Linked DNA regions of Homo sapiens. The protein of the gene in region 3 interacts with the protein of the main gene of each other region in a pairwise test. Each region holds a gene or a part of one and is shown on either strand. Other genes may lie near its edges.

Region 1 (7,205 bases), on a different chromosome or scaffold from region 3:
GAGAAGGGAGTCAATCCTCTGAAGTTATCCTCTTGCTCCAGGGGTCATTTTGTACATTCTCTTCTCTGGGCCCAACTTTGTGTAAGTATGCAAGTGTGAGAAGCTCACTTGCCTAACCCTTGTTGCAGAGAAGCAGAGGACCAGCTGCAGAACTGGAACAAAGCAGGAGTTTTTTTTTTTCTCAAATGCCTTCTAACATTTTCATAAGTGAACATTCTCTGTTTTCACTGCAACCATTAGTCTCTTGGACTGGAGGAGTTTCTGGCTCTAATTCTTCCAAAATTACATTAGCAATTACAGGAGACTCACATTCTTGAAGGTGAAGTTTGTGCTACCCACAGAACACCCTCTAGCTTGAAAATCACTGTTAGGCTTGGAAATCTTGGAACACAGGACAGCCTAATATGCACCAACTTCTGTGTCTGTGCCACCTAGAAAATAAGGAGGGAGAAGCAAACCTTACAACCAGGCTAAGAAAGCTTCCTGACTGCAAGGGGTAAGCCACCCCTCCTTATAGAAACTCAGTCTCATGAGGAAACAGAGAAATCATTGAGGCCAAGCTCCTTGTTTCACAGATGTAGAAACTAAGGCTCAAGGAGAGGAAGGGATTTGCCCAAAGTGTGTCTGTGGCAGAGCTGGGGCTTACATCCTTATCTCCTGAGTACAGATTTTGTGTTCTTTCCACTACACTAGCTGGAATTGAAACTTGGGCTCTGAATAAGCCTGATTTGGAAGCTGCCCAAATCTGAAAGGAGATGGTTTTCCTGTTCAGCATCTTGAAATTGGCTAGATCTAGAAACGGGGCAGATCCAATCTTTTGCTGCTAAGTGCAGAGAAACCTCTAAAGCTCATGCCTCTAGGTCTTTAAGGCTACAGGGACTCTTCTGGGAGAGATGTTCTCTGGACCTTCCTTTCCTTCCTTTCTGAGGAAGAGACCCCACGATGACCCCATGGTTTCATTCCAAATGCAGATGTGGTTAGACATAGACAAATGGCCTCTTGAGTGGCATTGCCATGAGGATTGGGTTTCTTGGCCATGAGGCATTGTTCTTAAGGGAGGACCTGATAAATCAGGACAAGATTCTCCTGCCTAAGTGTCTGGGGAGCAAGAAGTCAGAGTCAGTAAGAAGGTTTTTAGTGAGACTAGAGAAGGTTGTATTTAAAACTAAGAAACTACCTCAGGTGAAGACATTGTGATGAAGTCTGGAAACAGGCTTCCATTCCTGAAACTTTCCATAAAATTGTGAGAAGGTGGTGAAGGAAGGAAGAAGACCTGTGCCTACATGTAGTCTTTGAGTGGAGCTGCACAGAGCAGAGGAAGTCAACAGGAAGAGCTGGAGGTTTTGGTTCAAGACCACAGTTATGACTCATTTAAGATAACTACATCCTGGTGGGAATGTTGAAAGGACTGGAATATGAAATAGGAGGGTCGAGATTGTTCTAGAAGGATAGCAAGGAGGAAAGGGGGAAGAGTTGGTGGGCATGATTAATAATACATTTGAGAATGGGACTTCTGAGGAAAGACTTTGGGAAGCTGGATTATTTAGCCTATAGAAATAGGGGTTGGTGGGTAACTTAATTTCTTTTCATATATAAGGATTATTATGTATATGTATATTCTTCTCTGTCTACACAAATAGAATAAGAGCTTAAACTGCCACAAGAGGGACATCATTTAATATACCAGAGAACTTCCTAACAGTGAGCAGTGAGGGGCAATAAACATTGGAACATGTTACTATGGAGTTTGCAGAATTTCCTTTCCCAGAGATCTTTTAAAATAGAGTTTACAGAGGTCAGCTGAGAGAGTGAAACTTGCTGCCTCCTCCTCAGCTCCCTCTACTCTCTGTCTCTGCTTCTTTCCTGTTTCTCAATATCTCTCTCTCTCCCTCCTCCTCTTTCCGTGCCCCTCTTCCTCCTTCTCCATTCCCCCATCTCCAAAACTCCTTCCCATTCCTCATTCCCGACTAGCACTGTCCCCATCCCAACCCCCATTTCCTGTACATCCTGACTCCTGGAGGAACCTTCCTGGAGCTGATACTGTTCCTAAGGCCAGGCTGTACGGCTTCCTCTTGTTATCGACATCAAGTCCACCAAACTGGGCAGTAAACATAAAAGCTCCACATTCTTCAACAATAGCCCTTTCTAAAAAGAACCACAAAGTGACCCATAGGTCTAATCACTTGGTAGAGAAATTCTCATCCTTTGGACTCAGCTGAAATGTAACCTCCTTTTTGAAACCTTCTCTGACCTCTTCAGCATTTGGTCCCTACCCACTAAGGTAGCACTTCTACTATCCCATGACTGTGTCTGTTTCCCCACAGACACAGACTGATCTCCTGGAGGGCCACTTATTTCTATATGCTCAAACCTAGCTTTGTAAATGCATATTCACAAAAGGGAGTGGGGGGAGGGGAGAGAAAGCATAAGACAGACGGAGACAGGGAGACAGAGATGTGTGATAAAGGTATCCAACTCTTTAGCAGGGCCTCCCAGAGAGCTGACTTTGTGTCCTCAGAAGTCTGTAGAACTCCTGACAGTACACTCATCACAGGAAATAACTACAAATGTAACACTGAGGCCAGGCGCGGTGGCTCACGCCTGTAATCCCAGCATTTTGGGAGGCTGAGGCAGGCAGATCACCCGAAGTCAGGAGTTTGAGACCAACCTGGCCGACATGGTGAAACCCCGTCTCTACTAAAAATACAAAAATTAGCAGGTCGCGGTGGCACGCGCCTGTAATCCCAGTTACTCCAGAGGCTGAGGCAGGAGAATCGCTTGAACCCGGGAGGTGGAGGTTGCAGTGAGCCGAGATCGTGCCACTGAACTCCAGCCTGGGCAACAGAGCAGGACTCCGTCTCAAAAAAAAAAGTAACACTGAATCCTATTTTTCAGGAAAGAAAGCAGGACCTCCTGGACCCAATGGCCCTCCAGGACCCCCAGGACCTCCAGGACCCCAGGGACCCCCAGGAATTCCAGGGATTCCTGGAATTCCAGGAACAACTGTTATGGGACCACCTGGTCCTCCAGGTCCTCCTGGTCCTCAAGGACCCCCTGGCCTCCAGGGACCTTCTGGTGAGTTCCCCTGTCTCTCCACCCCACCAGGTGCCTTTAAAGTACTTTAGGAGAGCAGGAGTGGGTGATCCTGAGAGCAGTTTCAAACGGTGGAGATGGGGTTGGTGTGCAATAAGGGATGCAGATCTCCTAGCCCAGTGTAAAACTAGGAATTGGACAAGCCAGTAGGGCCTGGCCTGCTCTAGCTTCTTATATCTACCAAACTGTCAAGGACAGGCCACCTGTTCTTGCCCCATCTCAACCCTTCTGTTACAAGCCCTCCCTGACTCTTGGCCTCCCTGTAGTGGACCAGTAAAACTCATATGAGCCAGAGACAGAGGCCCTGGTGGTTCACAGGAGTTCCAGTGGGGAATAGATGTAATCTTCTGTGATTCCCAGCATCTAGCTCCACATGCTGATGTTTGCATAGAAATAGGCTATGGAGTAGAAAGTTGAGGACTGAACAAAATGACAAGCCCTAGGATAGTTTCATCTTGTGAAGTCTGAAGTGCTTTTCCCATAGCAAGTAGTCACTAATGGTCAAGAAGTTAGAAACTTAAGAGTCACTCAGGCTGTGGATGAAGCAAACCCAGGCACCAAGGCTGTCCTGTCCGGGAACCAAGTGCTTCTTGCACTAGATCCTTACCCTACCACACTTGCCATTCAAATGTCATTTCATCCCTTTGCATCTTTCTCCTTAAGCCCTGAAGGGCATCCGAAAGGTATGAATGCAGATCCAAACCTGCCTAATTGGAGTTGACAAGAGTCAGACTGCCTGGGCTAATGTCAGTTGTTATTTCTTTCTCCTGCTCCTCACTCCCCTGCCCTGTATCTTGGGGCTTTAAAGAAATGGACCCTTACAGCTGATTTCTCCAGGGGCAAGAATTCTGCAGCAGGATTCAGATTCTTTAACTTGTACTTCACACAGGGCTCAGCAGTGTTACCATGGCCACAAGAGATGGAGTTAGAGATTTTTTTTCAACCAATCATTCCTTAAATATTGAGCACTTTCTGTATACAAAGAGATATATTGATACATGGTCCCTTTTCTTATAGAGTTTATCTCCTAGAGGAAGAGAGAACAAAGAAACAAGATATTTACAAATAGCAGTGGGCTCTATGAAGAAAATTAATAGAAAGGGAGCAAAACACTAGAGAAGCCAATGCCATTGCCTCAGGGTCACACAGTGATGGGAATGCTCTCTCATTGTTCTCCATGGGTGCCCGGTGGGGCTTGCCTTGGGCTAATATTGGCCAGAGGCAATACTCAGAAGTTTCCCTGCTGGGTGCTGGGCCCACTGAAGATGAAGGTCAGGGCAGGAAACAGAAGGGGTGCACTCTGACTCTTCCTCCAGCTCTGAGCCCTGGAGAATAAAGCTCAGACAGGGCTGGCTGCAGGGAGCATGGCTCACCACCACTAGCTGCTCAGGTGAGGGGAAAAGGAAGTCAAAAGATTATGCCCTCTGATTGTCCTATCCTATTTTGCAGGTGCTGCTGATAAAGCTGGAACTCGAGAAAACCAGGTTGGCTGGGGATTGCTCTCTTCCTGGGTAGGAGGGAAAGCCACAGGCTAGAGCCACCTTTAAATTAGCTTCTTATTAGATTTCCTGAGGCTTTATTTCATGAGAACACCCCGGAGATTCTGACGGTTTTCACTCACAGCCCCCTCCCATCTCTATGAATAGAAAAGCTTTGCCCCAGGGCATGTTTTTAGCTAAGGAAAGGGTGTCTTGCCAGGATCATTTTTCCTCATTCCACAGGAGACCCCAGGTTCACCATAGCCAGGCCCAGTAGTCAGCTGAAATAAGCTGCCAGTCAGACCTATTCACCTGAGCCTCCAACTCCCCAACCACCCCAGACACCTTGCCGGCTCTCAGACCACCTGGGATCCGGAGCTGAAGAGTTGAAGAGTATGTCCTTGAAAAACAGCCAACCAGCTCCAGGCCCAGCCTAGCCTGGGCGTCTGCCTTAATGGCCTGAAGAGCTCCTCCCAGTCTTTGAGCTTCCTAATCTGTCTCTATTGGCAGGTTCTACTGCCTTGCCTTGTCTCATCTCAGCCTCCCTTGCTACAGCTGTGTGGCCACAGTGATAAATCTACACAGCTGCACAGTGCTTGACGGCTTGCAGGGCAATTTTATATCCATCACCTCATTTGATCTTCAGACATCCCTGTGAGAGAGGCCAGACATTCTTATAATCCCCATTTTACAGTTAGGGAAATGAGGCTCAGAGGCATTACATTTGGTTGAGGTCACATAGCTAGGAAGCGGTAGAGCTACAAAATCATATTACCCTCTAGTAGAAATGTAGTCAGTAACATCCCAAGACAGGGGAGAGGGATCAGAATTGGATTACAATAGAAGACTAGAAACCAGGATGGAAACATGGGACTGGTGGCTGAGCAAGCAGCCATTACTCATAGTGACTACTCTCTATCCTTCTCATCCTGCCAGCCAGCTGTGGTGCATCTACAGGGCCAAGGGTCAGCAATTCAAGTCAAGAATGGTAAGAATCAAAATAGGCTCTCTCCCAAAGAGGAGCTTCTCCCCTGCCTCCTCCCCAGCCTCCAAATAATCACCCAGCCTAGTTCCTCCCAGGCCGCTGAGGTACCGTTGGCATACGAAGTCATTCTTTGCTCCATCATGCCCTCTACTGGCTGTCCTGAGCAATTGCTGGCATCAAGACCAGTTGCTACACCCAAATTGCTTTAGAATCACTGATGACGGAGCTGAAAGGGACTTGAGACATCATCTAGCCCAGGCATTCTCAGGGGATGGAGGTTATATCAGAGCCACCATGGAGATATGTGTAGTTAGATTAATATTTTCACAATACAAATTATAGAAAGTAAAACTATGTAAAATTAAATTTTTCTTGTCTGATCTACACAGGTGGGCAGACAGGCTGCATCTCTCAGGGAAGGTGGGGCATGTTAGAATCTCCAGGGAATTTAAGATGCTAGTGTCTATCAAAAAGGAGAACATGTTTAATGGGGTTAAGAAACACTGATTTGTTGTAATCCCTGCATTTAAAAGATGGGGAAACAGAGTCCCAGAGAGATTGGATAATACCATAATAAATCATGCTGTCTCATATTTGTACGATACTTTAGAGTTCTCAGCATACTTTCTTTGTCTTTAATTTCATTCAGTCCTCACAACCACCCTATGAGGTAGGTATGAGCTCCTTTTTACAAGACAGAAAGTGAAGTTCAGAGAGATTAATTAAGTTTCCCAATATTTCTTAGTCAAGTTAGTTTAGGAGCCAGGATTCAAAACTACATCTTTCTGACTCTTTCCTCTCCCCTGTGCTACTTCAGTGATATGTATGTACACTCCACTGAATGATTAGGTTCATTTTCTTCCCCCAAAGAAACATGAACATTCATGAAAGAACAGCACTTTGGAATAATGTCCAGTCCCCAGAGTGCACAAAGCCTAAAATGCGTGAACCCCCAGGAGCCTTGGGAAGCAGCAAGCTAGCCAAGATGCCAGATGCTTACAGAGCTTGGGGTGGAAGGGAGGGGTTGTGAGTACAGAAACGGTAAAGGAAGGTTAAAAAAAACAGCTACATGGGGACAGTTTCTAAGAACTCAGTCAGTCCTGAACTGGCTGTGCTGAGTTTCCTTAATGACTGTATTTAGCTACTTCCCTGACTGCCACCTCCATGTCTGACTTAGTAGCCTCAGAAGTGTAAATAGGAACACAATGGCACCAAAACCCAATTGGTCCTGCTGGGGACCCCAAGGCCCTGAGTGGGCCATGATCCCCACCTGTCCAGGGAGGCCAGAGACAGGCCAAAATAGATTTGTTTGGATATCTAGATGGATAGTGTTTATTCTGTGCTAGCAGCCACTGATTTTGCTCCCACTGCCACATAATAAGATTGTTTCCAGCCCCTCTGGGCCAATCCTCAGAGGTGGTCTGTGCTGACCTTTAGTACTACCAGAAGAAGTGATGGGGGTGGGGTGCAGTGACTCACACCTGTAATCCCAGCACTTTGGGAGGCCGAGGCTGGCGGATCACATGAGGCCAAAAGTTTGAGACCAGCCTGGCCAACATGGTGAAACCCCGTCTCCACAAAAAATACAAAAATTAGCTGGGCATAGTGGCACACACCTGTAATCCCAGCTGCTCGGGAGGCTGAGGCAG
Region 2 (8,181 bases), on a different chromosome or scaffold from region 3:
TCAGGATTCTCACACTAGCCTAGAGAACAATTTTTTAAATAATTCCATCAACATATTGATATGGGAGAGGGGCAGGGAAGTGCTAAGTAGAGAAGGGCAGGGTCCCTGGCGAGGTTCCACCCTCGGCCTTTGCCCACAAACCCAGGTGAGGACAGGCACTCCTGTTTTCATGCCAAATGTTGCATTTCCAAGCCAGCCATGCCCCTCCTCCTGTGCCTATAAAAACCCTGATACCCTAGTGGGTATACACACACAAGTGGCTGGATGTCAAGAGGAACACACTGGCAGAAGAACACACCAACAGTTGCTGGCAGACCATCGATGGCAGAACAAAGCAGATACCAAAGGAAATTCAGCTGAGGGTGGTTGGAGGAGAGCCAGGCTGCTGAGCAGCCCTACTCCAGAGAAGACCACCTTCCCACTCCATCCCCGTTCTGGCTCCCTGTCCATCTGTTGATAACTACTATCACCACTCAATAAAACCTTGCACTCACTCTCCAAGCCCACATATGATCTGATTTTTCTGGGACACTTGGGCAAGAACCCTGGGATACAGAAAGCCCTCTGTCCTTGCGATAAGGTAGAGGGTCTAACTGAGCTCATTAAAGCAAGGTGCCTGCGGACGGCTAAGCTGAAAGAGCACATTGTAACATACACCCATTTGGGCTTCGGGAGCTGTAAACACTCAACCCTAGATGCTGCCATGGAGTCGGAGCCCACGCTCCCCATGACCTGCCCGTCTGCATGCTTCCCTTAGGGGTTTGAGCTGCGGGGCACCAAAGAAGTGAGCCACACCCCCATCACGCACCCTGCAAGGGGGATAAGGGAAAACTCCCCTCGTTTCAATATGTTAAAGCTTATTCACCCCATGAGAGCCATTTGGTTGGTAGGCTATTAATTATTGCCTCAATTTCAGAGCCTGTTATTGGTCTATTCAGGGATTCAACTTCTTCCTGGTTTAGTCTTGGGAGGGTGCATGTGTCCAGGAATTTATCCATTTCTTCTAGATTTTCTAGTTTATTTGTGTAGAGGTGTTTATAGTATTTTCTGATGGTAGTTTGTATTTCTGTGGGATTGGTGGTGATATTCCCTTTATCATTTTTTATTGCTTCTATTTGATTCTTCTCTCTTTTCTTCTTTATTAGTCTTGCTAGCAGTCTATCAATTTTGTTGATCTTTTCAGAAAACCAGCTCCTGGATTCATTAATTTTTTGAAGAGTTTTTTGTGTCTCTATCTCCTTCAGTTCTGCTCTGATCTTAGTTATTTCTTGCCTTCTGCTAGCTTTTGAATGTGTTTGCTCTTGCTTCTCTAGTTCTTTTAATTGTGATGTTAGGGTGTCAATTTTAGATCTTTCCTGCTTTCTCTTGTGGGTATTTAGTGCTATAAATTTCCCTCTACACACTGCTTTAAATGTGTCCCAGAGATTCTGGTATGTTGTGTCTTTGTTCTCGTTGGTTTCAAAGAACATCTTTATTTCTGCCTTCATTTCTTTATGTACGCAGTAGTCATTCAGGAGCAGGTTGTTCAGTTTCCATGTAGTTGAGTGGTTTTGAGTCAGTTTCTTAATCCTGAGTAAAATGCTATTCTTAACATCAGTTCTGTTCCATTGGTCTATTCACCTTGTTACTAGGCTTATTACTAGGACTATGTAGTATGCTTCCTCACTGTTCTATTTGAACATTCTAGGAGAATGAAAACACCATAGAGGAAGGTGGTTTTTTCTGTTCTGTCCATTGATGCAATCCAAGCACCTAGAACACAGCCTGGCACAGAAGAAGCACTCAAACTGTGGTATTTCAATGAAAAGTGAGGAATATTTTTCATGTGGAATTTTTTAAAGGAATGTTGTGCCCTACACCTTTTCAGTAAGGAGATTTTCTGTGAAGTACTACGCGAGGCCTGCTGTGTGCATGGCGAGATCAGCAGAGGCAGAGACCAAGAGAGGCAGAAACCTGGCAGAGCTGCTGAGGATGGTGTAGAAAGAGACTCCCCCATGCTTAGTCATCCCATCATGCCCATTGTCATGTGTAGCCTCCAGTTATACAAAGCTAGAGATGCTCAGCCTCATCCCCATTTGAGATAATTGCATTCTTTTGCCCTATTCATCATCACTGAATGGTGAGTCCCAGCAATTCTGATATCAAGAGCACCAGGAAATAACCATTTGTTTGTATTTCACTTGGAAGGTAGGGTCTCACACCAGGTTTGGGGATTTACTGTTCAAGTCCAGATGACCAGTAAAGCAAGTTCCTGGAAGTAATAATATAGCAGTTAAGAGCACAGTCCCAGCCAGGCACAGTGGCTCACGCCTGTAATCCCAGCACTTTGGGAGGCTGAGGCGAGCAGATCACGAGGTCAGGAGTCGAGACCATCCTGGCTAACACAGTGAAACCCCGTCTCTACTAAAAATATAAAAAATTAAACAGGCGTTGTGGCGGGCGCCTGTAGTCCCGGCTACTTGGGAGGCTGAGGCAGGAGGATGGCGTGACCCCGGGAGGCGGAGCTTGCAGTGAGCAGAGATCCCGCCACTGCACCCCAGCCTGAGTAACAGAGCAAGACTCCGTCAAAAAAAAAAAAAAAAAAAACGATCACAGAGCACAGTCCCTGAATTAAGATTACCTGGATTCAAATCTAGACTTCATTACTTTCTAGGGTGTGTGACAGGGTAAGTTACTTAACCTCTCTGTAATTTAGGTTATCAGCCAAAAGACAGAAACCTTCTGTTATTTTAGCAGAGAATACTTGCTAGAAAGAGTCATTACCTGTGTATTAAAGAACTGCAAAGGCATAAAGAAAACACTGAAATAATACAGACATAGAAACTGCATGAATCAGCCACAGCCCAGTCACTACTAACTCCCTAAGCAATCCCTGGCCTTTAGTTTCCCCACCTGTAAAATGCTGAAGTTGGGGGGAAAAATCGTTTCACTTTCATTCCGGTGGCGTGATACGAGATTCTAAGAAACAGGGAGAAAATTCCGTGAGTGGAGCCAATAACCAAGTCAAACATCAGGGGGGTCTATGAACACTGCTCCAAGGAATCTCTCTCTGGATAACCAGACCTTGTGCCCTAGCCCCAGCCCGTCATCTCCACTGCTAGAGAAAAAAAATACAGTTAGTCTGTCCAAGGCTGTTAGAGTCCTCCAACATATAAGACGCATTTCCATTTTACTAGCTTCATGGTCTGCTTGGGGTGGGGATGGCGGGGAGATCGTATCCTTGAAGTAGGCACTAGGACTGTGAGTCACTTGCCTGTCTAGAGCACCAGGACTGTTTGCAAAGGGCTGAGGAGATTTCCATCAATGGAAAAGAGCATGAATTTAGAGTAAACATAGATTACACTTAGAGATCAGAGATCAATCTAGAGATAAAATACACTTTTCTCTAAAGGGGGTGGGAGAAGATGTTGGACAAGAAATACCAGATTTTCTTAATGGTTCATTTATGTCAGGCTCTATGGTGGGGACTTTTATGTTATTTGACTTAATCCTCACAACAATTCTGAAAAATCTTTTTTCAAATTTTATGAGAAAGTGAACTGGATATTTAACTGATTTTCTCACGAATTCCTTCTGAGGCTCAGAAGTGTGAAAGAAGCCCAAATGACCAAGGTTCTTTAACAATTTGGTCAAAACAGGTCATAGACCCAGAGGAAGGTCTGGATCCTGGAAGTTTTCTTAAGCAAAGACAGTGCTTGTTGTGGATATGAAGATGTTGACTAAGCTGGGCACAGTGGCTCACACCTGTAATCCCAGCTTTGGGAGGCCAAGGCAGGTGGATCACCTGAGATCAGGAGTTCGAGACCAGCCTGACCAACATGGTGAAATCCTGTCTCTAGTAAAAATACAAAAATTAGACAGGCATGGTGGTGGGCACCCATAGTCCCAGCTACTGGGGAGGCTGAGGCAGGAGAATCACTTGAACCTGGGAGGTGGAGGTTACAGTGAGCTGAGACTGCACCATTGCACTCCAGCCTGAGCAACAAGAGCAAAAAACTCCATCTCAAAAAAAAAAAAAGATGTTGACCAAATGGCAGACTCTTGCCATGAAGCAAGCCCAGACCTCAGTGCCAAGAGATGTGAATTAGATTCCTGCCTCTTCCACAGACTAGACATGTGACTGGGGGCAGATTCCTTCAGCAATATCACCTCATTTGGAGAAGAACTGGACTAAAATACCCTCCAAGTAGTTTATGAGTTATTTAAATCTCCCAGGCTTAGGTTTGCTCCTCTCTTAGGGGATAGCCTTGCCACCCTTCAGGAAATGGAGACTGTATATGGAGCATGTTGTGCCGCCAGCTGCTGCATGTCCCAGAGCCATCTTAAACCCTACCCTTCTGAACAATGGCTAGTCTACAAGAAGCCTTAAAAGGGATGTGAAAGTGGCAACAGTGTCCCCTCAACAACAAATACTTCCCCAAATATGAGCTTGTGTGGAGCCTGATGACTCTGCCTCTGAGGCCAATCCACTGGCATCTTTCCCAAGATGTGCCTGGACTTCCCTGAGCATGAGGCCAAAGATGGAGAATGGAAACACCCAAAAGAAGTAACAAGGAGACACGGAATTTTCCACAGGTTGCTTTCAGCTTACCAAGAGCCTGGAAAGTGAGAGAATAGATTCTCCAAAATTCAAAACTAACATTACTATTATCAATATTTATTGTCTACTTTTTGTAAACTCTTTGCATCTTTTTTCTTTAATTCTCCCAACACCCACAGAGTGGAATTATTATTATCCATCCACCATTTATTTAATAGACAAGAAAACTCAGGCTAAGCAAAACTAGATGACTTAAATAATTCTATGTAGGAGTAGGGAAAATGAATTTTAACTGGGACCGTACAAATCACTAGTCTGCACAAAGGTCTTTTTCTCATGTGTCACTTCTATCTTGTGTCATTTTGCCAGACCTCAGAATTTAGAAAGAGGAAGCAGAGGCACTTTTTATATATCAACTGTCTGTAACTACAGCAAAATTCACATCCTGTGTAATCATAAATACTGCTCTAAGAAAGGGACAGGAAGTCTCAGAGGCTGGAGAGCAGAGCACCAAGATCGTTCTGGCAGGAACAGCCAGTGGGAGGTTCCAGCTGAGCGCTCCCCAGAGGTGAGCTGATCCCCAGCCACAGCACACAGGACCAGGCTGCGAGAACAGGTAGACACCTTGGTTTAGATCATGACTTTTGGGGAAGATTGTGTGCTTTTGAAAAGACAGCCAGGGAATTGGATTATCATCCTGTCTCTGATTCTGACCACCTGTGTGAGTTGGAGCGTCAGCTCAGTCCCCTTTTTGGGTCTCAGTTTACTCACTTGTCAAATAAGAAAATTGGGTAAAACCATTCTTAGGTTTCCCTCATTGAGGTGATTTTCCTCAATGTTCTGCATTCTCCTGGTGTGTCACTCAGTCTTACAGAGTCTACTCTCAACAAATACTGTGCAATTAGACTGAATCTTGCATTAGAACCCCATGGTCCTACTCTAATTCTGTAATACAGAAAATTGCTGGGCAGAGCTGTTGACCTCCATGTCATGATTTATCTTCAAAGCACGGATTTTAGAGCTGTCTTGAAAGCTGTGGGTCCCTCCAGTCTATCTCCTCAAGGCGAATGTGGAAGGACAAAGCATCCTCTCAGACTGTGGTGTTTGGAGATGATAGCATCAGTCTGGAGACTTTTGTGAAACATAAAGAATCTTGGTTATATAGGATTCCTTCTAAAAGTAGCAACGTGTATCTAAATTCAAGTGTCATAGATTTAAATGTAATAATTCCACTTCCATACATCACTGTGAGATAATTAAATGCAGGAGGTATCACAAAAGTGCAAAGATGTTCATTATTGCATTGTTCATAGTGGCAAAAAGAAAAAATAGAAACCACCTAAATAGTCATGAACATGTGATTGATTAAATGAATCTAGAGACCTCCATTTATTTAAATATACCATTTGGCTTTTTGGTTGTAGTAAAATATGCTTAAAATAATTGTAGCCTTTTAACCATGTGTTTTTTTGTTGTTTTTTGTTTGTTTGTTTGTTTGTTTTTTAATTGAGAAAGAGTTTTGCTCAGTCACCCAGGCTAGAGTGCGTGATCTCGGCTTACTGCAACCACTGTCTTCCAGGTTCAAGCGATTCTCCCATCTCAGCCTCCTGAGTAGCTGGGATTACAGGCACTCACCATCATGCCTGGCTAATTTTTGTATTTTTTTAGTAGAGACGGGGTTTCACCATGTTGGCCACGCTGGTCTTGAATTCCTGACCTCAGGTGATCTGCCCGCCTCGGCCTCCCAAAGTGCTAGGATTACAGGCATGAGCCGCTGCACCCAGCCTTAACCATTTTTAGGTGTACAGTTCAGTGGCATTAAGCACATTCACACCATTGTGCAACCATCACCACCACCCAACTCCAGAACTTTCTTGTCTTCCCAAACTGGAACTCCGTGCCCATTAAACAATAGCTTTCCATTCCCCTCTCCCGCCAGCCCCTGGCAACCACCATTCTACTTTCAGTGAATTTGACTCTTCTAGGTGCCTCACATAAGTAGAATCATACAATATTTGTCCTTTTGTGACTGGATTATTTCACTTGCCATATTGTCTTCAAGGTTCATCCATGTTGTGCCATGTATCAGAATCTATCATTTGCTTTTAAATTTAGGCTTTTTATTATTTCTATTCATCGGTCAAAGATGTCTACAGAATAATGTTGAGTACAAAAAGAACAGTTATAAAATGGCATGGATAGAATGACTATTTCCGTAGAATTGTGAATGTCTGTGAACATATATAAAGAGGAGAGAGATAAAGTGACAGATGGGAAGAGAGAATGTAAAGAATATGTGCATAGGAAACAAGAGTGATCGGGTGGCAGTTGAAAGTTAAGGAGCTAATTTGTTTTCTTCTTCAAACTGTATTCCCTTGTAATGGTGGTACTTTATGCACTCTTTCAAACAGAACAAACAGTTAAGAAATAACAAAGGAAAATAAATGTTCATGGTATCAGATAGGCTATAGCCTGAAAGTATCAATTAAACTTTCGAGTCCTAGCTTCAGGCTGAGAATCAAGCATTTTCTGCAGTCCTTAGGTATGAGATTCGAAAAATAAAGAAAGGAACCCAGAACTCAGGAGGCTGGTGACGAAGACTAGTAGGAAGGAGTCTAGTTGGTATATTTGGGCTATTGAGCCACACAGAGCAAGGTAAAAGCCAAGTTTCTACAACATGAAAGCAAGTTGGGAAAAAGAAATCTTCAACCTATATTCCCTAAGATCAGCAATGTCCCTGGGAGAGGATATGGAACTGATGAGTGGCAGCCAATGCTTCAACAATAGGGGAGGAAGAATAGAGAGGATGAGAATCAGTTGTAGCTAGCCGGGCAAGAACAAACCTACAGGGATATAGAAGAGCTCTGGTGTTAGATGGCCTGTGCCCAAATCTTGCCTCCACTACCTGCTAGATAAGCAATCTTGCACAAGCTATTTCACCTCTCCAAGCCTCATTTTTCTTATCTTCAAAGTTCAGCACCCATCTCTGAGACTGCAGATTAAATGAGACTGTCACAAAGCTCTTAATAGAATGCCACATTCATAGTACGTGCCCAATCAATGTTAGCAATGATTATCATTTTATCATGAACTACTGTTTGATTCTGGAACCTAGAATTTCTCTAAGCCTGACACTTTTTCTCCTTCTCTGGCTTTAAAGATGTGCTGGAAGGCTCACCCTGACTCCACTGCAGGGATTCAGCTTCAACATTATTCCCCTCATAGGACATGTAACCTCACCCACACTTCTACCCAGATTTCAAAATTCCAAGAAATGAAAACTATCTCCTTAAACAAAGAGAACTTTAGGTTTAATAATTCTTCAGATAAAGTATCTCATGCCCGGAGAGCATGAGAAACTAGACTAAGGCACAGATCTAGGAGTAGAAATAAAATGGAGGTCCAAACATGGATCGACTATTATGGAACACCTGATAAAACTCAGAGAGTTACAACAAAAGACACTCACGTGTGTCATTCAAATCCTCACAAGAGTCCTTCAGGATAGTGTCATTATCCTTATTTTACAGATAAGGAAACTGGGGATGAATGAGGGAAAGTATCCTGCCTACGGCCAGCTCATCAATATCAGAACTGGGCTTCCAATGAATATTAGATAAAACTGATATGTTTTGGGAGTT
Region 3 (7,205 bases):
CTCCCTGGGGCTTCTGTTTAGGGGCACAGGGTCCCCTGTGTGTCCTGTTTCCCTCCAATGGGTCTTGGAGTAATACAACGAGGAGAGCCTTTATGGTCTATAAGACCTTACAGGGCAAGGGTGATGGTGCTGGTGTCTGGATAGCGGATAAGGGCGGCCCAGTTCTCGCCTTGCTGAAGAGGCGTTGACTCTGGGACACACTGGCAAAACAGTCCCTGTGGCGGACATCCCGAGAGTGTTGGACTCCTGTGGTTCCCCAGTTCCCAGCCTCCTGCCATCGGCTTAATTCAAACCCTCTGGGAGTCATCAGAAATCCTTGTTTATTTCTTCCAGTGCATTCCAGAGTTTCTTTGAATGTGATGCTTGTGGAGAGGAACAGAGGGGCCTGGGATTGGGTACTTTCCAAACTGGGTTATTGAAACGTTGTCTCCCTGGCCCAAGACTCTGCCTAAAATGGTCCCCAGAGTCTCAGCCAGATCTTTCACAGCCATGCATGTCCTCTAACAGGTCATCCCAGCCTTCAGTTCCCCCAAAGTTTAAAATGAGGGGCGAGGACCGCATTACTTGGGATAAATGTCCTGCCGGCTCTGACCGGCTGAAATTCTCGGACTCAGCCTTTTACCCTCTGTCTCTCTCTCCCGTCCGCTGGACATCTACTCCCTTCGGTCCAGGCTCCTGGGCTCCTGTCCCACCGCACCCAGACCGGAGCTCAGGCTTGTTGGGGTTCGTGTCCTGGCTTTGAGTGCCTGGGGTGCAGACTGGACCCCTAGGCGAGCACGTGGGTCTAGCGCAAGAGCAGAATGCCCCCTGACCCCAGGGGCTGCCTGGGGAAGCGCGCGGTGGACGGGAAGCGCAGGGTCCGGGCAACCCTCTCGAGCCATTCTTTTCTTTCCACACTACTCTGGCTCTGCACCACCTCTCCGGAGCCGCCAGAGTCTGCGCGAGGCTGAGCTGGGGCCAGGACCGTTCCTCTACGCTGGCAGAGTTGGGTGGAAACTTGGAGACAAACGGAATGCGGAGAGCACTGGGGTCTGGGAAACCAGCCTCCTCGCCGCTGTCTCCCCCACCGCATGCCACGGCTGTCTCCAGGTCTCAGACGGAAATCTGGGCACCTACTCCCCTCACCCCTACCTCCACCCCATAGGGGAATTCACCATCTGAACCGGGGTCTCGGAGAACGTGACCTCTCACCTTCCAGGGAGGTCGCCGGGAGGTGCTTGGGGTGGGTGGAAGCGTGCAGTGGCCTCTGCTCATATTTTCTGGAAACCCCTCCGTTCCCTGGGTGGTTTTAGACGTGCGAACCGCTTGTTTTGTTTCCAAAAGCAAAAGATGTTCCGTTGCAGGCGGGCCCGGCTGGGCGCTGGGCACTGGGCGCTGGTCCTGCAGGCGGCTGCTGCCCCCTCTCGGCGGCAGGCGGCGCGAAGGCTCCTGACCCGCGCGGGCGGTCGGGCTGCGGGCGCTGGGCCAGGCCGGGCCTTCCGCTAGTGCGCGGGACCCTCCCTCTGCGCGCGCCTCCGTCGCTCGGCCCAGTGCGTTCGGCCTCACGCCCAGCGCTCTCCTCGCAGGCAGAAACTCCGCTGAGCAGAACTTGCCGCCAGAATGCTCCTCCTGTTGCTGAGTATCATCGTCCTCCACGTCGCGGTGCTGGTGCTGCTGTTCGTCTCCACGATCGTCAGCGTGAGTGCCTGGCGGGGAGGCTCCCTGCGCGGCCCGCCCTTCCCCATCTGGGTTCCCAGCCCGTGCTCCTGCTGGTTCAGGACTGTGTTATTTGCAGACAGTTGGAAGTCTCAGACGTCCCAGGGAAGTTTCTGGCAATCTGCCCCCTTCCAGTTGCTTTGAGAAAACGAGAGCAGATTCAGTGATAGGAACCAAGCGAGCGCTGGGCTGGGTTAGCTGCGCAGGTCTCTATTTAAGCCAAGTAACTTCAGAGCCGATCTAGGGTCCCCGACCTTCATTTGACAAGATTGTTTAACTTTTTTTTTTCTTGATGCAGCCTCGTTGAAGAAGAGGAGTATTTATGATTTTTTTTTCTCCAAACCATAGTCAGATGGGTGAATTAATTTATAAAACACCCTTTTAGGACTTGAAATTGGAAAGTTAAAATGGGCTTTTCTGGAAAAGAGTTCACAGGTCCCATGTCGGCTTTATGGCATGAACACAACACATTGTTAGTAAAGCTTCCACTGGTAGGAACAGGCCATCAGAGTAACTTCTGTTACAAAACTGTCCAGCCCATTAGATCTTAAAGTTATTTTCTTGGCGATGAAGATGAGCAGACATTCAGGCAGTTTTCCAGTGGTGGCTTTCACTTCTTAATTTAAGGCACATTGTAAGCATGATTTTCTTTTTCGTTTTCTTTTCTTTTCTTTTCTTTTTTTTTTTTTTTTTGAGATGGAGTCTCCAGCCTGTCACCCGGGCTGGAGTGCAGTGCCATGATCTTGGCTTACTGCAACCTCTGCCTTCCGGGTTCAAGCCATTCTCCTGCCTCAGCCTGGGATTACAGGTGCCCGCCACCACGCCTGGCTAATTTTTTTTTTTTTTGTATTTTTAGTAGAGACGGGGTTTCACTATGTTGGCCAGGCTTGTCTCAAACTCCTGACCTCATGATCCGCCCACCTCTGCCTCCCAAAGTGCTGGGATTACAGGTGTGAGCCACCGTGCCCGGCCTGTAAGCATGATTTTCTAGTCTCTGTGAGAAATAATTATGTTGGGGATTTGTGACTTAGTTTAACATTTACAAGCATCTTCACAGTATCTCCATTGTGCCTGGTGATGATGATATCAGACTGATAGGAGCTATAAACAAGGAAATAGACTGAGAGAGGCGGGCTTGGGGAATGATCCCGAGATGCTGGGAGGAGAGAAGGCTTGAATGCAGGTGTCTAAGGTTGAGTTCATGGCTCCTTCTACTATAGTAAACATCTCTGCACATAATCGTTTCTGTGTGCATGTGGAACTTCTCCATTTACAAGGTGCTTTTAAGTCATAAAACGTTGGCTCTTACCATGCAGGGGTGGGCGGTGTGGCTAGGTGGATGCGGGTGCTTTTCGCCATCCCTGGGCCTTTCTCCTTCCCCTTTTCCTTCACTCCTCCCTCCCTCCCTGACTCAGGATATCTATCTGATTCTCTCTAGCAATGGATCGTGGGCAATGGACACGCAACTGATCTCTGGCAGAACTGTAGCACCTCTTCCTCAGGAAATGTCCACCACTGTTTCTCATCATCACCAAACGGTGAGGCTGGTTTTGTGCTCCATGAGCTTGTCCTCAGACGCCTGTAACACGTTTCTCAGCCCAGAGCTGGAAACGCTTATTGGAAGACACAAGCCAGAATGTCGTTGCTGGGGTGGGGTGGGATGTGACAGGGAGCCATGAGTCCAGGGAAAATGGGAGGGGTGGTGATCTCGCTGGGGAAGCTGAGATCCTGGGCATCATTGTGATTCACTCTACCTAGAGACATGCCCTTAGTGCCCTCCTGATCACTTAGGATAATGCTTTTTGTGATTGAAAAAAATATCGACCTGGGAGCTGTGAAGGTGGTATGATAGCTAAGCCTTTGGCAGACCCCCTTGGGACATTGGATCAAACGTGTATCTTTGGTTTGGTGGCTGTCTCTATTCAGAAATGTCCTGCCCCTTTCTGCTGCAGTGACAGTGGGGCTAGCTCACTGCACCGTCAGTTACATGGACACAAGACTGGCTGCCTTTCCAGGTCTTGGGCCTCAGTGATGCCACCTAGCATCAAAACCTTTGAATGTTTCCTTGTTGCAAGATGGGGACTTGAAGCTATTTGCAAAACCCTAAGCTAAGCCTTGGGGTCCTTAATCCAGAAGATCGTATTTCTCCTCTGTCCTCAGCATCTTTGCTTGTGAGATATGGAAGCCAGGCTTCATGAGGGTCAAATTAAGGGATAATTGGCAGCAGAAGCACCAACTAGGTACCCAAGGCACCCAGAGGGAAAGGAACACCCAGCCAGGAGCCCTGTGTGTTTGGATGCAGACAGGTGGAGGTAAACAGGATGAGCTGTTTTGGTGGCTGGGTAGGCCATAGCGATTGATGTTAAGAGCCCGTGGACCTGGATCCACATGATCTTTTGTTCCAGAAGATGTGTCCTCAGGCTGGAAGGACCTAGAGATACAGCAGAGCTTTCCTAACATCCTGGGTTTAAAAGGCCACGGAAATACAGCTTTAAATGTTGCTGGAGCTACTCATAGATCCAGTATATATGTTCAAGATGCTACACCAGACGAGAGAAACCAGTTTAGATCCAGTTCAGTAAAACAGGCAGTGAAGTGGCCTTTGGTCCTGGCTTTGCATAATCCAGTTGCTTTGCTGGACTTTCCCTCTTACAGCTCAGTACCCAGTAATACCCAAGCATGTCCCCAGCTGAAGCATTATAAACCAAATTCCTTGAACCACAGTACAAATAGAAACTGCTAAAATAATAATTTGGTAATTTACATGGAGAAGATACGCAAGGAGTAGAAAACCCTGCTTTATGTTTTTACCTTCTGGGTTGGGGAGGGAGCAGAGAAAAGGTCCCAGTCCTATTGGAGTGAGAACAGTGCTTAATCTTGTCTCTGAGTGTGTGAAAGGCATTGAATTAAAGCCATCCCAGAAATTACGTGGTGGGTTTGCATGGTGAGTTGGCAACTGAGTAAATGAAATACTCATGAGTGCCTGAGAATGTGACCGTAGCACTGCTTGTCCCCAAAGCCACAGCATCCGGTTTCTCCCCCTTTAGGGTCTGGCTGAAGTTCCCGGAGCACTCCGGATGGGAGTCTCCGTACTCGCTACTGACACCTGGTGGTTACAAGTAGTGACTCAGCCCGAAAAGGGCAGGCTTTGGTGCTCACAGGCGCCATCCCCAAGTGGCATCTGGCCACGCGGCTTGGCACAGAATCCTGGACTCTTGGGCCCGGAAGGGGGCAGTTTTGGCAGGCGTGTTAAAACCCGGCGAAGTTTCAGCAGAAACGAGGCGGCAGAGGAGTTGCTAAGTTGTGCTTAAACCATCTGCAGGAAAGAAAGCAATATTGACCTGTAGCATGTTACAGATTGACATTTGGTGTCTTCTGCCGTTGGAAATAGCTGTCAGTTGGTGCTAGAAGCAGATCTCAAAGAGGCACTAGGGTTATTTTAATCAGGAAACTTCTTATCTCTCAACTTGTTCCTTCTGTGCCAAGCTCATGTTCTTGAGTTCATTTACAATGCCTCCTTAGTGTGGGTTTCAAATCTGCCTCGTTGCTTTCCGTGAGGACCCCAGAGTGTCTGTTTTCCACATCTCCCTTCTCAGCTCTCACAATCAGGGCATTTTGAAAACATCTGGACACTGCACCTGAACATGCTGGGTTTGTTTTCACGCCACTCAGGCTTAATCTAAATTTGAAATTTCCATTTACACTTCCCCAGTAGTGGTTATCTCTGCCGCTATCTTCCCCAACGTGGCAGCACTTGCTACGACTTCAGCCTTAAGTGGCGAATCCTCCAGGGCCTCTTTGATTGAGTTTAACAATTGTGGCTGCAGACAATAAGCTGAAAAAAATGTGTACTTTTTAAAACATTATACTGTCTTTACAAATGAACTATGCTCATTGCGAACCATTTAACTTGTCTGTATTTGCTCTTAGAAAGTATATTTGAAAAAAAATACTTGTTAAGTAATCAAAAGTAATTTGTTATTGACATCGATTTGTGAAGAATATGTTGCAAGTGTGAAAAAATAAATAGTGGTGCAATCTCGGCTGACTACAACCTCCACCTCCTGGGTTCAAGCGATTTTCCTGCCTCAGCCTCCCGAGTAGCTGGGATTATAGGCGCCCAACACCACGCCTGGCTAATTTTTGTATTTTTAGTAGAGAGGGGTTTCATCATGTTGGGCAGGCTGGTCTCGAACTCCTGACCTCAGGAGATCCACCCACCTCACCTCCCAAAGTGCTGGGATTAGAGGTGTGAGCCACTGCGCCATGTGACTTGGTATTTTTTTCTGAAAGGACTCATTTTTCTGGTGCATGACCATGACACTTCACCTCTCTCTGGGGGTTGCCACTCATGTTGTTTTCTACATGAATGGGGCCTCCTGGCATCGTGCCATGAGGCAGTCTAACATCTAGGTTGTGTAGTTTGAAAGAGACACACCAGATCTTGCCCCCAGGCTACATCTTAATATTAGAAATAGTTTTAGATTTTTAACTAACTGACTTTGACTCCGCCTGCCTTCTCGTTTTTCTAAATGTGTTTGTATACTTTCTGGCACCCCCTCCTTATCTGCCTCGTGTGGGCAGAGGTAAGAGAGGCTTAGTGTGGGGATATTCGTTATGATATTGTATCCAGTGCCTCTCCGGCCCAGGGAATACAAGGATCTGGAATGCATGGGCCTTGCCTTGATGGTCCCGAGCCTGGTCGAAGAGTCAGGAGATAGATATGGAAGGGTGAATCACTCCCTTGGAAGGCAGAGCAGGCCAGGTGCCCAAAGGGAGGCAGGCAGACAGCGTCTGAGTTCAGGGAGGAAGCGGATGGGAAATCTCTGGTGGGAGGTAGAATCTGATCCATCCTCCAAAGGATGGGCAGGATTTAAGTCAATACAGGCAACGGGGAGGAGAATATTCCCTGTGACCTAAGGTAAGGGTAGAACAAGGCAGGGGATGGGGTAGACTGGTTGGCTAGTGTTCTGGTTAGGATTAGGATTGATTGTGTATAAGAGAACATCTTCAAATGATAGGGGCTTAAGTAAGATCATTTATTTTTCTCTCTTTTCAAAGAAGTCTGGAAGTAGGTAGCCTGAGAGAGGTATGGAGGTTCCATGAAATTGTCAGAGATGCAGACACTTTCTAGCTCATTTCTTTGCCATCTCTTGGGTTTGGCTGTCATCTTCAGGAAACAAAAGGCTGCTAGAGCTCCAGCCATCTCATCCATGATTCAAGCAGTAGGGTGGAGAAAGGAGGTGGGGAAGAATGAATCTCCTTTTCTTTTAATGAAATGTGACATGGTCACACCTACACCTATTTACAAGAGAGGCTGAGAAATATAGTCATTCGGCCTTGGGGGAAGCATGGCTTTTCAAATCATAGAAACCTGGCAGCAAATACCTCTCTGTAAGCCTGGTGTGGAATACTTTCCTTGAGGGTTTGACCATCCCCTCCCATACCCAATCATACTCTTTTGCAATAGCTCAGTTGGGCCCTATGCAGTTCCATAAGTCCCAGTTATT
Region 4 (8,134 bases), on a different chromosome or scaffold from region 3:
AAATCAAATGCTTCATACAAACTTGTTGGGTTTTTTGTTTTTTTTCTTTTCTATTTTTGATGATGAATATTTTTTATTATTATTATACTTTAAGTTCTGGGATACATGTGCAGAACGTGCAGGTTTGTTACATAGGTATACATGTGCCATAGTGGTTTGCTGCACCCATTAACCATCTACATTAGGTATTTCTCCTAATGCTATCCCTCCCCGTGCCACCCACCCCCCTAACAGGCCCAGGTGTGTGATGTTCCCCTCCCTGTGCCCATATGTTCTCATTGTTCAACTCCCACTTACGAGTGAGAACATGAGGTGTTTGGTTTTCTGCTCCTGTGTTAGTTTGCTGAGAATGGTTGTTTCTAGCTTCATCCATGTCCCTGCAAAGGACATGAACTCATATTCGTTTTTTTCAAAAAGGCTCAAACTCAGTAATTAAAGAGATGCAAGTTAAAACAAGTAATCATATACATATATAACTTACCAAATTCACAATGTAGACTAGGATGTAAAGAGATAAGAACTTTCAAACACTGCTGTTAGGATAAAATTCATAGAAAGCAATATGGTTGTGTATAAAAAAAGATTTTTTAAAACTTCACAGTTTTTGACAACTTAATTTCACTCCTAGGAATCTATCCTAAAAGAGTCATCAGAAATGCTGACAAAGAGTTATATGTAAGATGTTCATCATAACATTGCCTTTTATTCAAAAAAATGGGGGAAGGTACAATCTAACTATATAAAAATAAGTGAATAATAGCACTTCTATATAATGAAATACTAACACACTCATATTAAATGATGTTTACAAGAGCTTTGGTGAAACTAATACAATTAAGTGAAAAGAGCAAAACATCAAACTATATTATCCTTTAATTATGTAAAAAAATACATACAGATAATTGATAAGAAGGAAGTATGCCAAATATTTTGTCTAGGGCTTAAAATTGTGAGCAATTTGTTCAAATTCTCTCCAAATTTTCTATTATGAACACCAAAAGGTGAAATTAAAAATTAGGGATATATGTGGTAATATTTTTGAAGAAAAAATTAATAGATGTGTCAATTATTTTTCTCACTAGTATATTCATTTTATTTCTTCCTAATTCCTAGCTATAATATTTTCTATTGTTATTTATGCCACCATTTTTGCCTAATTACCATAGACAGTGTTATAAAAAGTGGTGGAAATGTTTTCTCCAATGGCAGTAAAATAATATAAGCTCTTGGAAACTTACAACCTGAAATGACACTGCCAGGGCCGTATTTAAACCTGAATGCAGGGATGATTTCCCCTAGGAAGTCAGCAAAAATTCAGCTCCATTTTAAAGGTGATTAAACAAAGTTTACCAACCCCATTATTGTTAAACAGAATCAGACCTGGACTTATCTGGTAGAGATACATTGATATGTTTCAATAAAGCCTATTGCCATAAATGAGAAAGTCATATTTTCCTCTGCAGACCCCCATTCATTTTTTGGCAGATACGGCTAAAATAGTAGTCTGCTCAGAGCCCAGAAAACTTACCAGGAAGTGAAAAATCCTATCTTCCAGGTGTTTTAAAACACATCAGTATTTATTTCACACAGAAGAAGTGTGTAGATTTACAATTTCACTCCTCTCATTCAGTATTCTGCCTAGGTAGAGATAGTCTTAGTTTATCCTTTAAAATTAACTTTTTCTATTTTCAAAAAAGTGTCACTGTCACCATTTCAGCCAAGAAAGAAAATTTAATTCCTTATTATCTGAATAACATTTTTCCCTATTTTGAAACTCTGCATGAAAACATTTGCATAGGGAAACTGGGGGGGGAATTGCCATAGATGAAAAATAGATAACTTTAATCAACAATTTTTTTATTTTTCCATCTTCAATCTATGTTTTTGGTGGTATTCTAACACATGTATATGTATTGTCGGGGGAAGGTTAGACAAATGTCATAAATTGAACATCTGAAAATCAAACCAATAGAGCTTTTTAAGAATAAAAGGATACAATTTGACCTAGCAATCCCATTACTGGGTATATACCCAAAGGAATATAAACCATTCTACTATAAAAGCACATGCACACATATGTTTATTGCAGCACGATTTATAATAGCAGAGATGTGGAACCAACCCAAATGCCCATCAATGATAGACTGGATAAAATGTGGTACATATACACCATAGAATACTATGCAGCCATAAAAAGGAATGAGATCATATCCTTTGCAGGAACATGGATGAAGCTAGAAGCCATCATCCTCAGCAAACTAACACAGAAACAGAAAACTATACACCACATGTTCTCACTCATAAGTGGGAGCTGAACAATGAGAACACATGGACACAGGGAGGGGAACAACATATACTGGGGCCTGTCGGGGGTCGGGGGGGTGAGGGGAGGGAACCTAGATGATGGGTCAATAGGTGCAGCAAACCACCATGGCACATGTATACCTATGTAACAAACCTGCACGTTCTGCACATGTATCCTAGAACTTAAAGTAAAATAAATTTTTTAAATGAAATAAATTTTTAAAATGAGGATTAAAAAGCCTGCCTGTTGGTTGAAATAAAAGTAAGATAGACTCTGTCTATGGAAACAGTGGTAGAATCATTCCTGAATTATTCCAACAACAGTTTTCAACCTAATTGGTCAATCTATGCCCACCAGCAGAAACCAGTGTCACTTCTAACTGTTCCCTTCCCTCCTTTTAGAATTGGCCTTGTAACAACTCAAGGGACACACTGCCATCAACATTCCTTCACTGTAGATCATGTAACTGTTGCTTACCCTCTTATTTTAGGCTTTCTGGCTCATGCTTCACTAGAAACACTGATCACAGAACCTAAAGTAAGGTGTGCAGTGAAGGGGAGTGTTGCCTCCATTCAAATTAGAGGTAGTTCTTCCCTATTTGCTTTCTGTGTTTGCTGGGAATAATGCAGTGGGAGCAGAGGCTGGGTGCACCCAAGATAACAAAATGTCCAGACACAGAGGCTCGTTTCCTGGAGAACCTGTAAAGACCTATAAAGGTTAAAGATTGGAGTATGTATGTGGGGGGGGAGTGTGGGGGTGTGTGGGGGTGTGTGTGGGTGTGTGTGTATGTTTCAGGGCCTTGAGGTCCAGATTTTGGAGAGTGTCATTAAAATGTCTCCGGAGGGCTGGGCACAGTGGCTCACGCCTGCAATCCTGGCACTTTGGGAGGCCGAGGCAGGCAGATCATTTGAGGTCAGGAGTTCGAGGCCAGCCTGACCAACATGGTGAAACCCCATCTCTACTAAAATACAAAAATTAGCTGGGTGTGGTGGCAGGCGCCTGTAATCTCAGCTAGTCAGGAGGCTGAGGCAGGAGAATCGCTTGAACCCAGGAGGTGGAGGTTGCAGTGAGCCAAGATTGCGCCACTGCACTCCAGCCTGGGCGACAGAGTGAGACTCCCTCTCAAAATAAATAAATAAATAAATAAAAACAAAATATATCTGGAAGCCAGGCACAGTGAGTCACGCCTGTAATCCCAGCACTTTGGGAAGCCAAGATAAGCAGATCACTTGAGCTCAGGAATTCGAGCCCAGCGTAAGCAACATGGTGAAACCCTGTCTCTACTAAAAACATAAAAATTAGCCGGGTGTGGTGGTATGCATGTATAGTTCCAAATACTCTGGAGGCTGAGGCATGAGAATTGCTTGAACCCAGGAGGCAGAATTTGCAGTGACCCCGATGACAACACTGCACTCCAGTCTGGGCAACAGAGCAAGACTCCATCTCAAAAAATTTTTAAAAAGTCTCTGGATTCAGAGGCCAGACATACCTGGCCCCCATATCCGTCAACCAATTCTCTAGCAAAATTTAGTTGTATAGACAAAACATAACACCTGATGTCTTCAGCCAAGTCTCTCTACTGTGATTATACAATTCCTAATATTTTGACCAATTCTAGTGAAAACTTTTCTGCAAAATGTAGAAGATAGTGTATGAGATCTGAAAAGGCTCTGGAGTGTTCTAGTTTAGATCTCACATGTTGTGGATGAAGAACCTGTGACCTACAAGGGCTTAGGAGTTTGCCCCCAACCTGCCCAGCACACGACAAGTTAGGGGCAGCATCAGGAGCAGATCCTAAGCCTCTCCGTGACCAGGCCAAGGACTTCAGCCCAGCTAACCCTGGTCCCTCCTCTGGCCTTTGTGGGACCTCCTGTGTCAGCCACAGAGTCCTCATGTGGTTCTTGTGGCACGAGTGAAAGCATGACATGGAAATCAACGGGGTCCCTGGCTTCCTCTCATCCCAGTTCCAATGCTTATGGACCAAGAGCATAGATCTAGGATTTGGCTTCGTGTTCTCAAAAGTGGGGACAATTTTGCCTGCCCCTGCTGCTCCATATGGAAACAGAGAAAGAGCGCTGGACTGGAAGCTGAGGTGGGAGCCCCACCCCTGCCGTTTTTAGAGTATCTGTGGTTCCAGGCACTGGGACAAGTCCCTTAACTTATCTGTACTTTTCTTGACTCACCCCCAAAAAATGGGGATAATAGTGCCTGCCCTACCCATTTCTGTAAGATCAAAATGGAAAGATGTAAGTGAAAAAAGTCGTTCATGAGTTGTGAGGAGAAAATGTGAAAAGTCTGGTTTAAGACAGAGCACGGTGGGTGCTTCCCAGGGGCCATCTTAAGCGAGGTCAGCCAAAGTGGTCTGCAGTCACGTTCCCCGTGGTGGGGACACGTCAGCCTTTTCTCCAGATGGCGGCGCTCTCCGGAGGAGCCGGAGCTGGAGGGAGGCCGGTCTGGCCCGGAGCAGGGAGTCCTTCTGCTCCCTGGCACGGCTCTGCGCTGAACCCACCCGGCCTGCGGAGAGCAGACAAGTGCCTCTTGGGCCCGCTTCTCTAACAAATGTAAAAATAATGCCCTTGAACCAGGAGCGAAACTGAGCTATCTAAGGAAAACACTGTGAGCAAATACTGAGAGCCTAGGGAAACCATCTGATTAGAAGAGCTCCCCTCAGGAGCGCGTTAGCTTCACACCTTCGGCAGCAGGAGGGCGGCAGCTTCTCGCAGGCGGCAGGGCGGGCGGCCAGGATCATGTCCACCACCACATGCCAAGTGGTGGCGTTCCTCCTGTCCATCCTGGGGCTGGCCGGCTGCATCGCGGCCACCGGGATGGACATGTGGAGCACCCAGGACCTGTACGACAACCCCGTCACCTCCGTGTTCCAGTACGAAGGGCTCTGGAGGAGCTGCGTGAGGCAGAGTTCAGGCTTCACCGAATGCAGGCCCTATTTCACCATCCTGGGACTTCCAGGTAGGCACCGTGCACCCCGGGGTAGAGCCAGGTGAACCAGGTGAGCAGGGAAGGGGGCGTTTGCGTTAAGCCCCACTCCCACCTCTGGGTGAGGACCCTGGCAGCTCTGGCTCAGAATGAAAGGTGTGAATAAAAGGAGAAGCTGGCTCGTGTCTAATAGGGCAACAGTCATGCAGGAGAAAATGGGAGGGTTAATACTCAAGGCGAAGGAATCGCTAGTGAGGAGGCAGGCCTCAAGAAGAATGGGTCTATTGTAAGGGTATGTTCATGATACCTGGAATAAACTCGTGTTTCTCAAGGAGAAAATAAATTGTGTGCATTACTTGCATGTGGCTTGCTCCTGCCTGCACATACATGGGAGCAGGGAAGCAGGATGCTGAGTATTTTGTTATATCTGGAAAAGTTTATTGAGAGCTAATTTAATTTTCTTTCCATTTCAATTAAATTTTTCAAAGTTGGAGTCTCTGTGGGTGCCAAAAAGAATATTGCCATTAAATTATAAATATCCTTTTGCTGCATTTGTATTAAGAATATCTTGTATACTGTCCTAAAAATCAATGTATATCAAAATATAATTACAGAATTATAATTATATTATGTCAGAATATAAATATAATTATAAATGTGACATCCTTTCACCCCTAAAGATGAAATAAATTAAACCCCTGCTTTTAATATAGATAATTACTTCAAATATGCATCATAGCAACTTTGCATTCTGAATAATATGGGAGCTCTATTTGTATTTTTAAAATGCAAACAAGAAAATAATAGCTCTAGCTAATTAGTGGCTCTAAGGGGTGGCCAAGATGTGAGTGTGATGGAGAAAGGAGAACAATGTCTCTGAAACAAATACCTTTTATAAACAAGTAGATGGAAATAAATTTGCAAGAAATTGTGAAGAGGCTGTAGAGCCCTTGAAACTGAATTGAATTGTGAAAAGCAATTCAACTAATCCAAGTTCATTTTCAGAAAGAAATAGAAGATGGGTGTCAGAGTAGAAGAATTTGATTATTTATTCCATTTTTTGGAAGCCACTTATTGCAGGACCAACAGGATGACTGACTCCGGGGAAAGACCTGCTTAGGGAAGCAAGGGAGGTAGAACCTGGCCAAAAGAAAGAGAACCAGACTGAGGAGGGATTATGCTGTAGTGGGAGGGGAGAGGTGAGATGCAGGAAATGCCACACAGAGTGTTGAGTTGCTAGTTATGTCTAATTTTAACTATCATATAAAGAAAAAATATTGTCCTCATATTCAAAATTAAGGCATGATGTCTTATGACTTCATGTTCAATAACCTCTCCCCAGGGCCCCACTACATATTATCAATCTCTTGCTCACTGTGTATCACAGTCTCCATACATGGGGCTCCTGAATATTCCCACTCTCCTAAATGGGCAAACCCCATTGCGTCCACTGTGACTTGTCACTCCTATTCTGTCAACGGATCTTATCTCCATGACACCCTCTCAGAATAGCTCCACCTCTCCCCCTTGATGGAACAAGATTATCTTCCCTGCTTTCCTGCTAAGGTCAACCTCTCCTGCTAAGGTCAACCTCCCCAGCAGGGCTCTGAAGGCCTCATGCCACCTGTCTGGGATCATGCCCTGTTGGTCAGCCCCTCTCCTCCTTGCCTCTTTCATCTCTTCTCCTCACTTATGCATATGGCCTCCTTCCTGGGGAAATCTGTTGATCCTGATCATTGTCAAGTTCTGTCTCTCTCCTGGGTCACTGACAAACCAAATTAAAAGACTAAGTTTTTCCACTACCTCTCACCCTTAACCTTTCTCAGTCTGGTTTCTATCCTTCATCTCTATAGAATGTTTGCTTTTTTGACCATAGCAGAGGATGAAGGGGAGTATTTCAGTCACCAACTCCTAGTTCTCAGTTCTCATCTCCTTAGACATTTCAAAACCCAAACAACTTCCACGGTTCCCCATTCCCAGCTTAACTAGGTGCACACATAACAGCCTGACACCAAGCCTTCCTAACCCCTCACCTACCTTCCTTGGCAGTCTCTTACTCCCCCATCCTGTTTCTTCTGTCCTTTCAGTATACCTTGGACTTGGTCCTGGACATCCATTGCTCCTGCTCCCCTGAATTCCCCCCTCCACCACCCCAACTGTCCTCTCACAAATCTTCCTCCAAACCTCCTCAAGCCCCCAAATTGAATAAAGATTCCACAAGTCTCTGTACCAAACCCAGAGCATTCTCATAGCATTGAGCATATTCACCCCGCGTGACACTGCTCTCAAATCTGAGAAGCATTTATTGCATACCTACAAAGAGTACACAACACAAAACTGGCCTTGTCGGCACCGTAAATTCCAGCAGAGGGGACAGGCATGTGTGTGAATATCAAAGCAAAGGCAACACATGTCATGGGGCTTTGACACAAGTGTTTGGAGCCCAGGAAGAAAGTGGTTATTCAGTAGGAAGAGTCAGGAGGGGAGGAAATCAGGACAGTTTTGCTAAGGGAGTTCTGTTTGAGTCTGAACTTTAGCTTACTAACTTGGTTATTTGTACATTTGTGTCATTCAGCTTCTATGTGGTGTTTCCCTTCAGCTGGATAAGAATTATTTCCCCATTTCCCAGAAAAGCGCCTGGTAGAGTGAGTATTTAGCAAAGGATTGATAAACTAAGTTGAATTAAATAGTACGAATAGTTCATTTTAAGTGTTTATGCAAGCCATTGAACTAAAAACAGGTTAAGGTCTTCCCCAAAAAGGACAGTAAATCATTTTTGTACTATAAATTTTTTGTTATTATGGCTCCATATATAGAAAAGGACCTGGTCCTCCTCCTGCCTGGAACAGATTCATTTGTTCATCCAATCATGTATTTAACAAATATCTCTTGCAT

What was found.
Region 1: the proteins of PMP22 (region 3) and EDA interact in binary tests that used the Homo sapiens proteins (3 or more experiments, as listed by UniProt).
Region 2: the proteins of PMP22 (region 3) and MS4A7 interact in binary tests that used the Homo sapiens proteins (3 or more experiments, as listed by UniProt).
Region 4: the proteins of PMP22 (region 3) and CLDN18 interact in binary tests that used the Homo sapiens proteins (3 or more experiments, as listed by UniProt).

What each region holds. Positions count from the first base shown.
Region 1 is NC_000023.11:70,024,962-70,032,166, forward strand, and holds part of EDA (ectodysplasin-A), read left to right. Parts: intron 1-2,895; coding exon 2,896-3,075; intron 3,076-4,542; coding exon 4,543-4,577; intron 4,578-5,507; coding exon 5,508-5,559; intron 5,560-7,205. UniProt on the Homo sapiens protein: Cytokine which is involved in epithelial-mesenchymal signaling during morphogenesis of ectodermal organs. Functions as a ligand activating the DEATH-domain containing receptors EDAR and EDA2R. May also play a role in cell adhesion.
Region 2 is NC_000011.10:60,373,509-60,381,689, forward strand, and holds the start of MS4A7 (membrane-spanning 4-domains subfamily A member 7), read left to right. Parts: upstream 1-5,023; 5' UTR 5,024-5,156; intron 5,157-8,181. UniProt on the Homo sapiens protein: May be involved in signal transduction as a component of a multimeric receptor complex.
Region 3 is NC_000017.11:15,255,122-15,262,326, reverse strand, and holds part of PMP22 (peripheral myelin protein 22), read left to right. Parts: intron 1-1,191; exon of another isoform or gene 1,192-1,368; intron 1,369-1,506; exon of another isoform or gene 1,507-1,565; 5' UTR 1,566-1,599; coding exon 1,600-1,677; intron 1,678-3,133; coding exon 3,134-3,233; intron 3,234-7,205. UniProt on the Homo sapiens protein: Might be involved in growth regulation, and in myelinization in the peripheral nervous system.
Region 4 is NC_000003.12:138,005,174-138,013,307, forward strand, and holds the start of CLDN18 (claudin-18), read left to right. Parts: upstream 1-4,991; 5' UTR 4,992-5,052; coding exon 5,053-5,272; intron 5,273-8,134. UniProt on the Homo sapiens protein: Involved in alveolar fluid homeostasis via regulation of alveolar epithelial tight junction composition and therefore ion transport and solute permeability, potentially via downstream regulation of the actin cytoskeleton organization and beta-2-adrenergic signaling.